Linked DNA regions of Homo sapiens: all the other regions are reported to be linked to region 3. Evidence: microRNA targets listed by miRTarBase, many of them from high-throughput screens and not tested one by one. Region 3 holds a microRNA gene; each other region holds the end of a gene's coding sequence.

The links. Region 3 holds the annotated microRNA hsa-miR-378a-3p (ACUGGACUUGGAGUCAGAAGGC, at 1,727-1,748, shown strand). A microRNA usually pairs through its seed, bases 2 to 8, with sites in the 3' UTR of a target mRNA and lowers its output. Matches are read on the target gene's strand: a 7mer-m8 pairs with bases 2 to 8, a 7mer-A1 pairs with bases 2 to 7 and ends in A, and an 8mer does both.
Region 1: miRTarBase lists PNISR as a target of hsa-miR-378a-3p. The part of its 3' UTR that is shown has no 7-base or 8-base seed match.
Region 2: the mRNA of STXBP3 is a reported target of hsa-miR-378a-3p. The part of its 3' UTR that is shown has no 7-base or 8-base seed match.

What each region holds. Positions count from the first base shown.
Region 1 is chr6:99,396,986-99,400,985 of GRCh38, reverse strand. PNISR (PNN interacting serine and arginine rich protein) reads left to right here. Exons shown (of 12, transcript NM_032870.4): 12 at 1-2,936. The coding sequence ends at 446. Among named protein-coding and RNA genes, the nearest start is that of COQ3, 4.8 kb to the right of the region's middle.
Region 2 is chr1:108,808,489-108,812,488 of GRCh38, reverse strand. It overlaps STXBP3 (syntaxin binding protein 3), which reads right to left. Exons shown (of 19, transcript NM_007269.4): 19 at 2,966-3,706. The coding sequence ends at 3,612. Among named protein-coding and RNA genes, the nearest start is that of AKNAD1, 47 kb to the left of the region's middle.
Region 3 is chr5:149,731,141-149,735,140 of GRCh38, forward strand. MIR378A (microRNA 378a) reads left to right here and starts at 1,685; the gene lies at 1,685-1,750. The region is part of intron 1 of PPARGC1B (PPARG coactivator 1 beta); the gene reads left to right. RefSeq lists silencers at 308-407, 418-467, 488-577, 608-837.

The DNA.
Region 1 (4,000 bases), not on the chromosome of region 3:
GTGAGGCTAAAGAACAAGAGAGGAAAAAGGAGAGGAGTCGAAGTATAGATAAAGATAGGAAAAAGAAAGACAAAGAAAGGGAACGTGAACAGGATAAAAGAAAAGAGAAACAAAAAAGGGAAGAAAAAGATTTTAAGTTCAGTAGTCAGGATGATAGATTAAAAAGGAAACGAGAAAGTGAAAGAACATTTTCTAGGAGTGGTTCTATATCTGTTAAAATCATAAGACATGATTCTAGACAGGATAGTAAGAAAAGTACTACCAAAGATAGTAAAAAACATTCAGGCTCTGATTCTAGTGGAAGGAGCAGTTCTGAGTCTCCAGGAAGTAGCAAAGAAAAGAAGGCTAAGAAGCCTAAACATAGTCGATCGCGATCCGTGGAGAAATCTCAAAGGTCTGGTAAGAAGGCAAGCCGCAAACACAAGTCTAAGTCCCGATCAAGGTAGTATACTTTTTAAAGTATTTTGTCTGATTTTTAAAAAAAATTGACTGAATTTATTCAAAGTTGAAAGTGTCCTTTCTCTCTCTCTTTAATAAACTCAGTTTGGTACTTGATAAATAATCATAGTCTTAAATGTTAGAAATCCTATATAATATTATTTATTTAAAATTGCAGATTTTTAATTTAAAATACATTTTTATTTTTAAATTTTGTCTTTTCCCTTTTTTTTCAGATCAACAACCCCTCCCCGTCGTAAACGCTGAGGAATGATGTGGCAAGAATGCCATGATGTTCTTTAAAAAAATTCCATGAGTTTTAAGGGCTTGTCTCATTATAGAGGCACATTGTGGCTGTGTAGGTGAAACCAGAATCTTTTTTTTTTTTAATCTGTAAATAGGTGTACTTTTTCCAATGCTGCTCCAAGTTACTTAATAGGATTTCTTTGTATTACGTTTTTTTCAAAAAATATAGTGCATAATAAGACTATAAACATGCCATTCTCTTTCAGCTGTAATGTTCTTAAAATTATTCTTGAATGTACTGTGATGTCAATAAAGCTCTTTAGTTCATTTTTGTTAAACTCTTGCACCTTAATTTTATGGTTTTAATCTAAGGAACGTACTTTTATAAAAAGGCAGCTGGAATTTTGTATAACAGGTTTTAAAGGTACCTTCTCTCACCTCCCCCAAAGAAAATGGTTTTTACTTAATAGTTTGTCAAAGTTTGTAAATTGTACCCATGGACTTTTGCCAGATTCCAACTTTAAGGGTATGAAAGAGGGCTAGAAATAGACCTTTACTTTTCATTTGGAAGTATTTGACAACTTTCTAAACTTTTCTTCCTATTTTGGGGATTTTCAAGTAATATATTCTCTGTGTGTATAACGTGTGGTTCACTCCTGTAAAATGAAATTGCTGGAATCAATCAAGCCAGTGCACCAGTAGAGTTATTTGTAAGGAACGATTGTGTTTGACAGTAATAGTCAAGTCTGGAACTATATTCTACAGTCACCCACTTCTGTTTTAGAAGCATTTTGAAACACTTTTTGGGGTTATAGAAATAAGACTCATGATTCAATATATTTATTTATATTTTTAAAGTATAATATGACCTCAAATCAATGGAGGAATGCTGTATTATGCAGGTTTGTGTCAATTTCCTGACATTAAAATTGTCTGATTTTGTCCGTTTCTTAAAATTATGATTAGTGAGTGGTCTAACAGTTTAAGGCATTGATAACTTACAAGTAGAATGGGGCTCTCAAAGCATTTTAACTCAGTTGCTTTAGGGTCCATTTTTTTATGTAATCACTTACTCAGTGATAAATGAATCTCTGAAAACAAATGCTTTTACATTTTAATTTAAAAAGAAAACAGGTGCAGGCCACAGAAAAGTTTTAAAGTATGCCTTCTTACCAGCAATAGTTCATTTTAAAAATCATGCCAGATTTTTGCCAAGATCAGTGTTTCCTCAACATGAAGATAGAAATAGATTTGTATAGTGTGCTCTTGTACCTCTACATAGATTATTATATAATTTTGAGCAGTTACACATTTATCTAAAGGAAATAAATCAACTGTGAATAAATGCATGTTTACCAAAATGGCTGTTTACAGTGCATTTAGTTCTGATATTTATAAAGATGACATTTCACAGAATAACTTTAAAATAGTTTGAAATTCTATATAGTTTAGACATCGATCACATCTGGAGACAAAATAAAATGTGCAATATTTTTTATGTAGGCGAGCTAACACAGTGTACCTAATTGCAGAATTATCTGATTAATTTGTAATAGATAAGTTGTATAACATTTTCATATCTTAAAATGTTTTTTAGATCAATCTTGAAGTGAAATATTTTCAAAATAAAATTCTACAGAAAAATTCTGTTGGCTATGATATGCACATTTTTGGGCAAGTTATGAACTAGAGCCAAAAGTAGTATTTGACAGTTTTATTTACTCTGCCGTAATTTGCAAGCTTATCAGTTAAGTCTGTAGTTTTTTTAAAAGCCGTCATGATATTTGTGATTATTAGTACATAAACCAGTGTTATAATTTGATATTTGGGTTTTTCAGACTTTTAGTGGCAGATTTAGAGAATTCTTTATTTTCTTGACATGTGATATAGTATTTATTTACCTTGAGTGGTAAGGTTTTATAAGGTAGGGTTTCCATGATTTAGGATGTGAATGCAAAAACTTACACATAAGTTAATTAGATGTATAATTTGGTTATGAAATCTTTTCTAAAATAATACCACCAGAAAATTAACAGATCAAATTTTTGAGACAATCCTTGGTCTGGATTGGTTAATGAAAATGTCTTGTTTAAGAGGTTCTATTAAAAAATATTTCTAGTGTATTAGTCATAATTGTTTTTGTGGAGTGGGGGTAAACCACACCATTAAGGGAATAAAATGTAATTTGAAAGAGGTGATTATAAGATTTGTTTCAGGCCCCAAAATATAAATAAAAATTGGTGTGGAATCTCGTTAGTGTATATGTTTTCTGCCACTATAAAATTACCTTTTTAGCATCTGTTTCTAGTGGTGTAATACCAAGTAGGTAAATTTCGCAGTCTATTTTTAAGTGTCCTGAGTTTTTTGTTTCCTTAAACACATGAAAGGTAATAGTAAAGAATTTTTTACTGTATTTGGGAATTTTTACATAGGAGTTGTATTAGGTTTCCAGTCTCTGTAGTGTTGCCTTACAGAAATCTTTACATCTAAACTGAGTTTTTCTTCTCCTACATAAATTTAAATGTATTTTGATTTACTGAAGTTTCTAAAATGTACTGAGTACAGACATACACCACATAACGACGTTTCAGTCAATGACGGGCCACATGTACAACAGTGGTCCCATAAGATTATAATGTATTTTTACTGTACCTTTTCTGTGTTTAAATACACAAAACCATGATATTACAGTTGCCTACAGTTTTCAATATAGTATTTGTAGCCTAGGAGCAAAAGGCTATACCATGTAGCCTGGGTGTGTAGTAGTCTATACCATCTAGGTTTATGTAAGTATACTCTGTGATGTTCACATCACAATGAAATCACCTAATGACACATTTCTCACATGTCCCCAAGTTAAGCAACTGCATAGTTGCTGTTTCTTGCTTTTTGAGATGGAGTCTTTCTCTGTTGCCCAGCCTGGAGTGTAGTGGCGCAGTCTCAGCTCACTGCAAACTCTGCCTCCTGGGTTCAAGTGATTCTCTTGCCTCAGCCTCCTGAGTAGCTGGGATTACAGCACCCACCACCACATCTGGCTAATTTTTGTGTTTTTAGTAGAAACGGTTTCACCATGTTGGCCAGCTGGTCTCGAACTCCTGACCTCAGGCGATCCACCCGCCTTGGCCCCCCAAAGTACTGGGATTACAGGCGTGAGCCACCGCTCCCAGCCGATTGCATAAATGGAAGTAGTAGTAGAGTCATTGGATTGAGCTGGCTCTGTTTCTTGATGTGTTTTAGGCAAATCACTAAATCACCATGGGCCTTAACTTCTTCAGCTGTGTAAGGGAGGAATTAGATGAATTTTTTTTTTTTTTTT
Region 2 (4,000 bases), not on the chromosome of region 3:
GAATAAATGGTTTCCATTGGTTGCAACAACAAAAAAGTCTTTTTCTGGGTCTTGAAATCAAAACCTGTAATTTTTTTTTTTCAGACAGGGACTGACTCGCCCAGGCTGAAGTGCAGTGGTGTGATCACAGTTCACTGCAGCCTCCACCTCCTTGGTTCAAGCAATCCTCCTGCCTCAGCCTCTTGAGTAGTAGCTGGGATCACAGGTACGTGTCACCACACCCAGCTTTTTTTTTTTTCCTTTTTTTGTAAAGATGTGGTCTCACTTTTGGAATATTCATAGAACGAAAAAAAAAAAAAAAAGATGTGGTCTCACTATGTTGCTCAGGCTCGTCTCAAACTCCTGGGCTCAAGTGATCCTCCTGCTTTGGCCTGTAATTGCTAATTCTATGGGGGAAAAAAAATCAGCTTATACAAGGAATTTATGTGAGATGACGTCTTATGGCTTCAAATTCATAAGAGATTTTGTAAACAAAGGGTCTCTGCAATTCAAAGCTTAACATATATGTGAAATACAGGACTCAAAACATCCGATATCAGTGTGATCAGGGTAAAGTGGTCACTGAGATGTCAAGTGATCAAATGAATAAACAGTCCAGTGTTTGCTGTCATCACACTCTTAGTTCCATTTGTTCCAGGCCATTGGATTAATCTAAATACCTATTCCACACATGTTCTGACCCTGGAGAGGGAGTTACTGAGGCACACAAAGATCTCAGATAAAATGCAGACACCAAAAACTAATCCTCTTACTGGAGATATATTGTTTTCATGCGTAGTTTGCAAAGAGGGCTGTTTATTGTGCCAGGCCCTTCCTTTCCATGCACTCATCCACACCAAGTTACATCCATCTCTTTGTGTCGGTTTCCTCAGCTTTAAAATAAAGATGATAATCACAGTACCTATGCTCACAGGAATACACGAGAAGATGGAATGAATTAATAATAGAAAGCACTAAGTAAGCATTTGTATATTATTACTTTATTATCAATACTTAGTAAAGTTGTAAGATTAACATATCAAAAGTTGGCCAGGCACAATGGCTCACACCTGTAATCCCCACACTTTGGGAGGCTGAGAAGGAGGATTGCTTAAGCCCAGGAGTTTGAGACCAGCCAGGGCAACACAGTGAGACTGTCTATACAAAAAAACAAAAACAAAAACAAAAAAACCCAAAAATTAGCCATATGTGGTGGCCCATACCTGTAGTCCTGGCTACTTGGGAGGCTGAGGCAGGAAGATCACTATCGCCCAGGAGTTCAAAATTCCAGTGAGCTATGATCACATGACTGCACTCCAGCCTGGGTAACATAGCAAGACCCTGTCTCTATTTAAAAAAAAATAAATAAATTTCTATGTGTAAAAAACCATTTGAAAATAGTAGAAGATTCAACCCACAAAGGAACTACAAAAATATTTTGACAATGTGCAGTAACTATATGAAGAAAATGAAGATTCTGAAGGTTATGAAGATTTAAATGAAAAGACATTTCACATTCCTGAATATCAAAGTTTCAATATTATAAAAGATGTTGATTTTTCCTAAGTTAACCTAGGAACAATGCAAATCCTATGAAAATACCAAAATGGCTTTTTTTGGGAACTCAACAAAAGGATACTAAAATTCATCTAGAAAAATCTGATAGAAAATTTCTGAAAAATAATAGTAATTTAGGTGGATTGAATAGGAACTTCTTCCACTACATATTGAAACATACCATGAATTGAAATAGGGAAAAAGAAATACAAAACAAACTGTAGGTCATTAAAAGAGAATCCAGAAATAGACCACAATACAAATGGAAATTTAGTCTATGATAATGGTGGTATTTCAGATTAGTTGGGGAAAGAGAGATTATCCAATAGGATCTGGTATAACATCTGGCTGTTTAGAAAGGAGTGAAGCTGGACCACTATGAAATACTCCATCAAGTCAGGGTTCTGTGCAGGAAACAAACTTCTCTAGATATTTCAAGCAGAAAGGCATTTAATACAGAGAATTAGGTCGTTACAAAAATCACTGAAAAAGCAGTAGGAGCAGAAACTGGAGACCCACGATCATTTTACCATCTGTGACCCAAAGGACAGGAAGCTAGTGCTGCTGCCACAGCATTAACTCATACCCACGAAGCAGGCGACAAGACACTAAAATGTGGAGTCTGGTTGCTACAAACAATTCCTGTCTGCGGGAGATTGCTTACTGGCATAGTAGATGGCCTCTGCCTCCAAATCTTGACCAAGTGCACATCATTGGTAGAATATAAACTGTTCAGACCTTACTTATCCTAGAACCTGAAAAACTTCATGTTTAGCCTTTCATCCCCTGTGGTATGGGGTAAGGAGGCATGGGACGTCATGCCAAGTACTAAGAGACAATATCTAGCACACATTCTTACACTAAAATCAATTCCAGATGGGTGAGTTACCTGTAAAAAAATAGAATGAATCTATCAAAAATTTATAATCCTGGAGTGTGGAAGGTATTTCTAAGTAGCATGTGAAATTCAGAAGCCAAAATGGAAAAGCGATGGATTTACTTAAATAAAAATTAAAAATGGATATCCATCAATATTTAAATGCACAAATCCCTTGACCACTGCTAGGAATTTACATTATGGAAATGTCTGTGTAAGTCTGCAAAGGTATGTACCCAAACAACGCAGCATTATTTATAAGAGCAAAACTCTGAATCAATAAAACTATGGTCTGCCATATGACAGAACACTATGAGGGCAAGTAAAAGAAGAGATTTGAAACAAAGATGTTCCCTTTGTTTAACAAAACACATCTGCAGACATATATTATCTAACCCTATATAGAGATTACGTTATTTTTGAAAAAGTCATTAGGAGTTATCTTGGTGGGAATATTACGGTAGATTCCTTTTCTTCTTTGTTACTCTAATTTAGAACTTTTAAAATTTGTAACTTTCCCCTCTCCCCTACAGAAAACACAAACCAGAATAATTTTTTAAATTCTATATTTATTTTCTCTTAGAATGTTCATGATTTTTGGTTTTCTAATTTAAACATACATGATTTCAAAATTATATAAAATTGTGTTCTTTAGAAGTATGTGGCAAAACAGTACACACTGTGAAATCACTCCATTTCTATTAATGACTGAATTATTTTACACATAAACTGAATTTTAGTTGAAAGAAAAACTACACTTAGAGGAAACAATTCTATCATACATATACATTTACAGTTTTTTACTTTTACAATCTCTTTATTTAAAATCATTCTTTCCCAAAAACTATACTTCAGCATGAGACTTTTAGATATAAGTATCCAATGGGTAATTAGTATGTACATAGGTGGCTGTGAAAAATTACCCACAACTCTAATATATTCTCCTCCAAAGGTGAAAAAATTTCCTTTTAGAAAGCACTTTAACATTTCTTCTCATCATCTACAAAGCAGCAGCAATATTTAAATTATCAAAAATGACAAATCCAGTAATAATCATAAACAGTTCCTTAAGAAATGTATTTGAAAAGCCATTATTCCATAAAATATTTACATTGTTTAAATTACATGACAGCAACATTTTCTTTCTATTTTAGTTCAACATATTAGTAAGAATCTCTAAACCCTCCAAAAAGAAATGCTATTCATCTTTAATTAAGGAGACTTTATCCTTGGGTTTATTCAGCATCTTTATATCATCCAACAGCTTTTTGGGTGTTAAAACATGTGTAGAACCTGGTAGGAGAAAAGAGAATTTTTCAGAGGCCAGCAGTTAAATCAATTTTCCTTCGCTTAATATAATGTGTTGTCCTTCAAATATGTAAAGTGCAGTAGCCTGGGGTAATGTAACAAAATTTCTGTAAGACATCTTCCTGAAATCTGCCTATGCTGCAATATTTCAATCCTTCTTCACCACTGAGCATGTTCAGTAACTTTTCAGAAACAGCGGCCATTCCTAGTGCTTTGTCTACTTTGTGCTATACGTTGGTATAATGAAGGGCAAAACGGGATTATCCTATCCTCAGCACT
Region 3 (4,000 bases):
GGGGAAGGGAAGGCGAGGCGGAGTCCCAGGCACTGGCTGAGCCCGGGAGCCCCACTGGCGACACGCGCGTGACAGGAGAGGGTGCTCTGGTGTGCCGGGGCGCGGGGGAGCGAGGAAGCTGGTGGCTTGGAGACTGGGAGAGGGGTGCTGCTGGGACAAGCAGCCACCAAAAATGTCAGCACGAGGCGTGCGCGGCCCCCACCCCTTCCCCCATTTTCCCCACCCAATGCCTGTTGCAAGCATAAAGTTTGGCTCCAGAGTTAGGGCTTTTTCTCTGGGCGCCCGGCTGCGGGTCATTGGGAAGCTGAGGATGCGGCGGAACCTCGGAGGAGCCCCGGGTGCTGGCACACGCCTGGGCACGGAGAGGGGCGGCCGGGCGGAACCGGGCGCGGCTCGCGGGGGCTGGTTTGGTACCTGGAGTGGGAGCGCCGGTGCCGGCCCGTTTTGCATAACAGTGGAAGGGAGGGGGAAGGCGGAGATTGGGGGAGGGAGGTGGGAGGAGAGAGAGGGAAACTTTGCTTCTTGTTATAATCTGCCTGTCTTTGGGCGGCAGCAGCTGTCATGGGACCGGGTGGGCGGGGAGAGGCTTGCAAGCTGACTCCTTGCGGTGAAACGCGACTTGGAAGGGACGCCGCAGCCGAGACGTTCAGCTCCGGGCAGCGACTTCGGGCTGGCGGCTGGGACGGCGTGGCGTGGCAGGGTGTCGCCGAGAGGAAGCCCGCCACGCGGGAGGCAGGCCGCCCCTGGCCCGCTGCAGACGCCGCTGCGTAGGGGAGCCGCGGGGCCGCGTGGTCGGTGGCGGGCGCGCTCGGGTGGGTTCGCGGCAGAGGCCGGAGGGGCTAGTGGCGTGTGATTGCGCTTCTCGAGATCGAGGGGAATGTGTGATGAGCGGGTTGCGCGCGCGGGTGTGTGTGTGTGTGTGTGTGTGTGTGTGTGTGCACACGCCGCGCGCGCCGGGCGCGTACCTTTACCTCTGACGAAACTGCGGTGGAGCTCCCGCCGTCGTCGCCGGGCTCCGTCACACGCCCCGCGCCGGTGTCTGCGCCGAAGGCAGGTCCCAGCCTCAGTACCCCCAGAGCCGACAGCTTGGGGCTAGCGGGCACTGAGTGCGGGAGGAGGGGCAGAGTCACTCCTGGGAAGATTCTGTCCCCAGATCTCGAAATTGCCCTGGGGCGTCTCCGAATCTCTTGGCTGAAAAGCGGATGAGAGAGGCCTGAAATAGCCGGAGACTCGTTCAGGGACCCATGTCAAGAACTGTCCGCTTTGGACTGTACCCCGGATTTTAACTCGATCTTCAGTGTTTGGCTCAGCAATAATTAATTATTTTGCCCTTTAGCCGCCCAGCGAGCCTAGCTAGCAGAAATATTTCAACTAAGGAAACTAGAAAATTGAATACTCAGGTGTTTGCAGGAGCAGTGCAGTGAAAGTTAATCTGGGACATTTGCTTTTTTTATTTAACCACATGACAGGCCGAGGATCTTCTGGTGATCTTTGCCGGCCCAACTTGGGAAATGTAATTGATAGGATGAGCTTTGAGCCGCCCCTAGAAGGCTCGGAGAGCCCAGCCGGAAGAGGACCTGGGCGGGCCCAGTGTGCTCCTCCTTATTTTACAGCTGGAGAAAGAGGCTGCGAGGAGTGAGCGGCTTGTATGGGACCATGCAGCCAGAGGGTGACAGAGCCACCCAGGGCTCCTGACTCCAGGTCCTGTGTGTTACCTAGAAATAGCACTGGACTTGGAGTCAGAAGGCCTGAGTGGAGTCACCTTCCCCACTCTCTGGCTGGGTGACCCCGGAGCAAGCCATTTGAACTCTCCGAGCCTCATTTCCTCCATCTGTCAAATGGGGCTGGTGGTGCCGCAAGAGAATCCAATGGCCTGGTGGTGGGGGTGAGCAGTGTTTGCATGTGAGATGTTCTGGTTGTTCCTGCAACCCCCTCTCCTCCCCCAAACTTTCCCTGACCCTCCCCTCCTTCATCTCCCTTTGGGAGCTTTGGGGAAAGTGGATTAAATGGTAATTCATTGTCTTTGTCCCAAAAGATTGTTGTTGTCTTTGGTGGCTAATCCAGGGTTAGATTAGAGGGAGGACTTCTGTTTAGGAGACTTAACTTTTACCCATTGGGGCCAAAGTACGGAAATTTAGCAGAACAAGGATTGCGAAAGTTTCTTGGAAAGCTTTGAGGCATGGATCCCAAAGGACTGTGGGTGGCTTCACCTTTGTTCAGGCTATGCCCCTGGCCCAGAGTACCCTCACTCACCCGTCCTGCATGGCCTTCTCCTCTACTAGGCTCTCCCAGCCCAGCTTGCCCTGCTTTCTCTCCTTTGGTTTTCTGCATCTGTGTGATACAACCAAGCACTTTGTGTGAGTCTGGTGTCCAGTAAGATTCTAGCACTAGGGTTGTACCTTTTATCATTGTGCCTGCAAGGCACCTGTCAGTATGCTGAGCTGTGTTCCTTTGCTTAGCTCTTGGCTAGGCACATGGATTACAGACAGGGGTGCAGCTGGGTCCTGCCAAGCAGAAGCTCCCAGGCTAGCAGGGGAGACAGCTGGGCAGCGAGTGTGGGAGAGAGGAATGCAGAGGGCTGCAGCTGTGGGCAAAATTTTAGACCCCAAAGGCCACACAGCAAGTCCACACTAAATATGGGCTATTTGAAGTTGCTTAGGGCATCAGTCATAGATGCACAAAATGTCAGAGTTGGCAGCGGGAATGTTAGAAATCATCAGTTCTAACAACTTATTTAAAAATATTTAATTATAGAATTGTTAGAAAATACTGCCAAGCATAAAGAAAAAAATGAGAAATATGTAACATGACCCAAAGATAACCACTTAATTGTCATGTATATTCCAGACTGTTTATTTCCTGTTCATATAGATCACATCTTATTTTTAAAAAATGGAGTCGCCGGGCACGGTGGCTCACCCCTGTAATCCTAGCACTTTGGGAGGCCGAGGCGGGTGAATCACCTGAGGTCAGGAGTTCCGGACCAGCCTGGCCAACATGGTGAAATCCTGTCTCTACTAAAAATACAAAAATTAGCTGGGCGTGGTGACACACACCTGTAATCCCAGCTACTTGGGAGGCTGAGGCAGGAGAATCGCTTGAACCCGGGAGGCGGAGGTTGCAGTGAGCCGAGATCGCGCCACTTCACTCTAGCCTGGACAAAAGAGCGAAACTCATTCTCAAAAAAAAAAAAAAAAAAAAAAAAGGAGTTATCCTGAATATACTGATTTGTAACTTGGAATTGCACTGTTCTGTAACTTGTTTTTTTTTTTCCTCTTCCAAACAATATGCTGTGAACATCTTTCCACATCAGTAAATATTCTACTTAGTATCTTAATGATTATATAATGTTTTGTTGAAGATTGAACCGAGATGTATTTAATTAATCCTTTATCGTTACTCATTTACGTTGTTTAATTTTTTTATTTTGCTATTGTAAGCAATGCTAAAACGAATATCTTTTTATGTATGTCTTTGTTTCTTCCTTTAAGTTCCTAGAAGTGAAATTACTCCATCAAACTCATTCCTGGATTCTCTTCTAGAAAGATTGTACTTATTTGTGCACTGGCATGGTCTGGGAACACCTGGTTTCCTATACCCAGATAACTGTTGATATTTTCATTGTTTTTCATTTTTACCAGTCTGTTCGTCAATAAATTCTGTTACCCTTATTGTTTTAATGTGCATTTATTTGATTACTTGTGATGCTAAACTTCTTCCCCATATGATCATGGGTGACTTGTGGTTCTGTGTTTCTGAACTTGGCCCATTTTGCAATTGGTATCTTGTCTCCTCGTTGTTCTAAAGCTGGGACTGAGCACCCAGAAGGGCCCCCTGCCACATGGAGAACTGGGAAAATGGCTCCACACACCCCTTGAAGCCAGGGCCAACTTCTTTTTCAAATCAGTTTGTAGATTTGGACAAATGTATAGTGTGTGGGAGAAGATTGAAGCATAGCCTTCACTGGGTGCATTTGCCCATTCTTTATCTGTGTGAGACT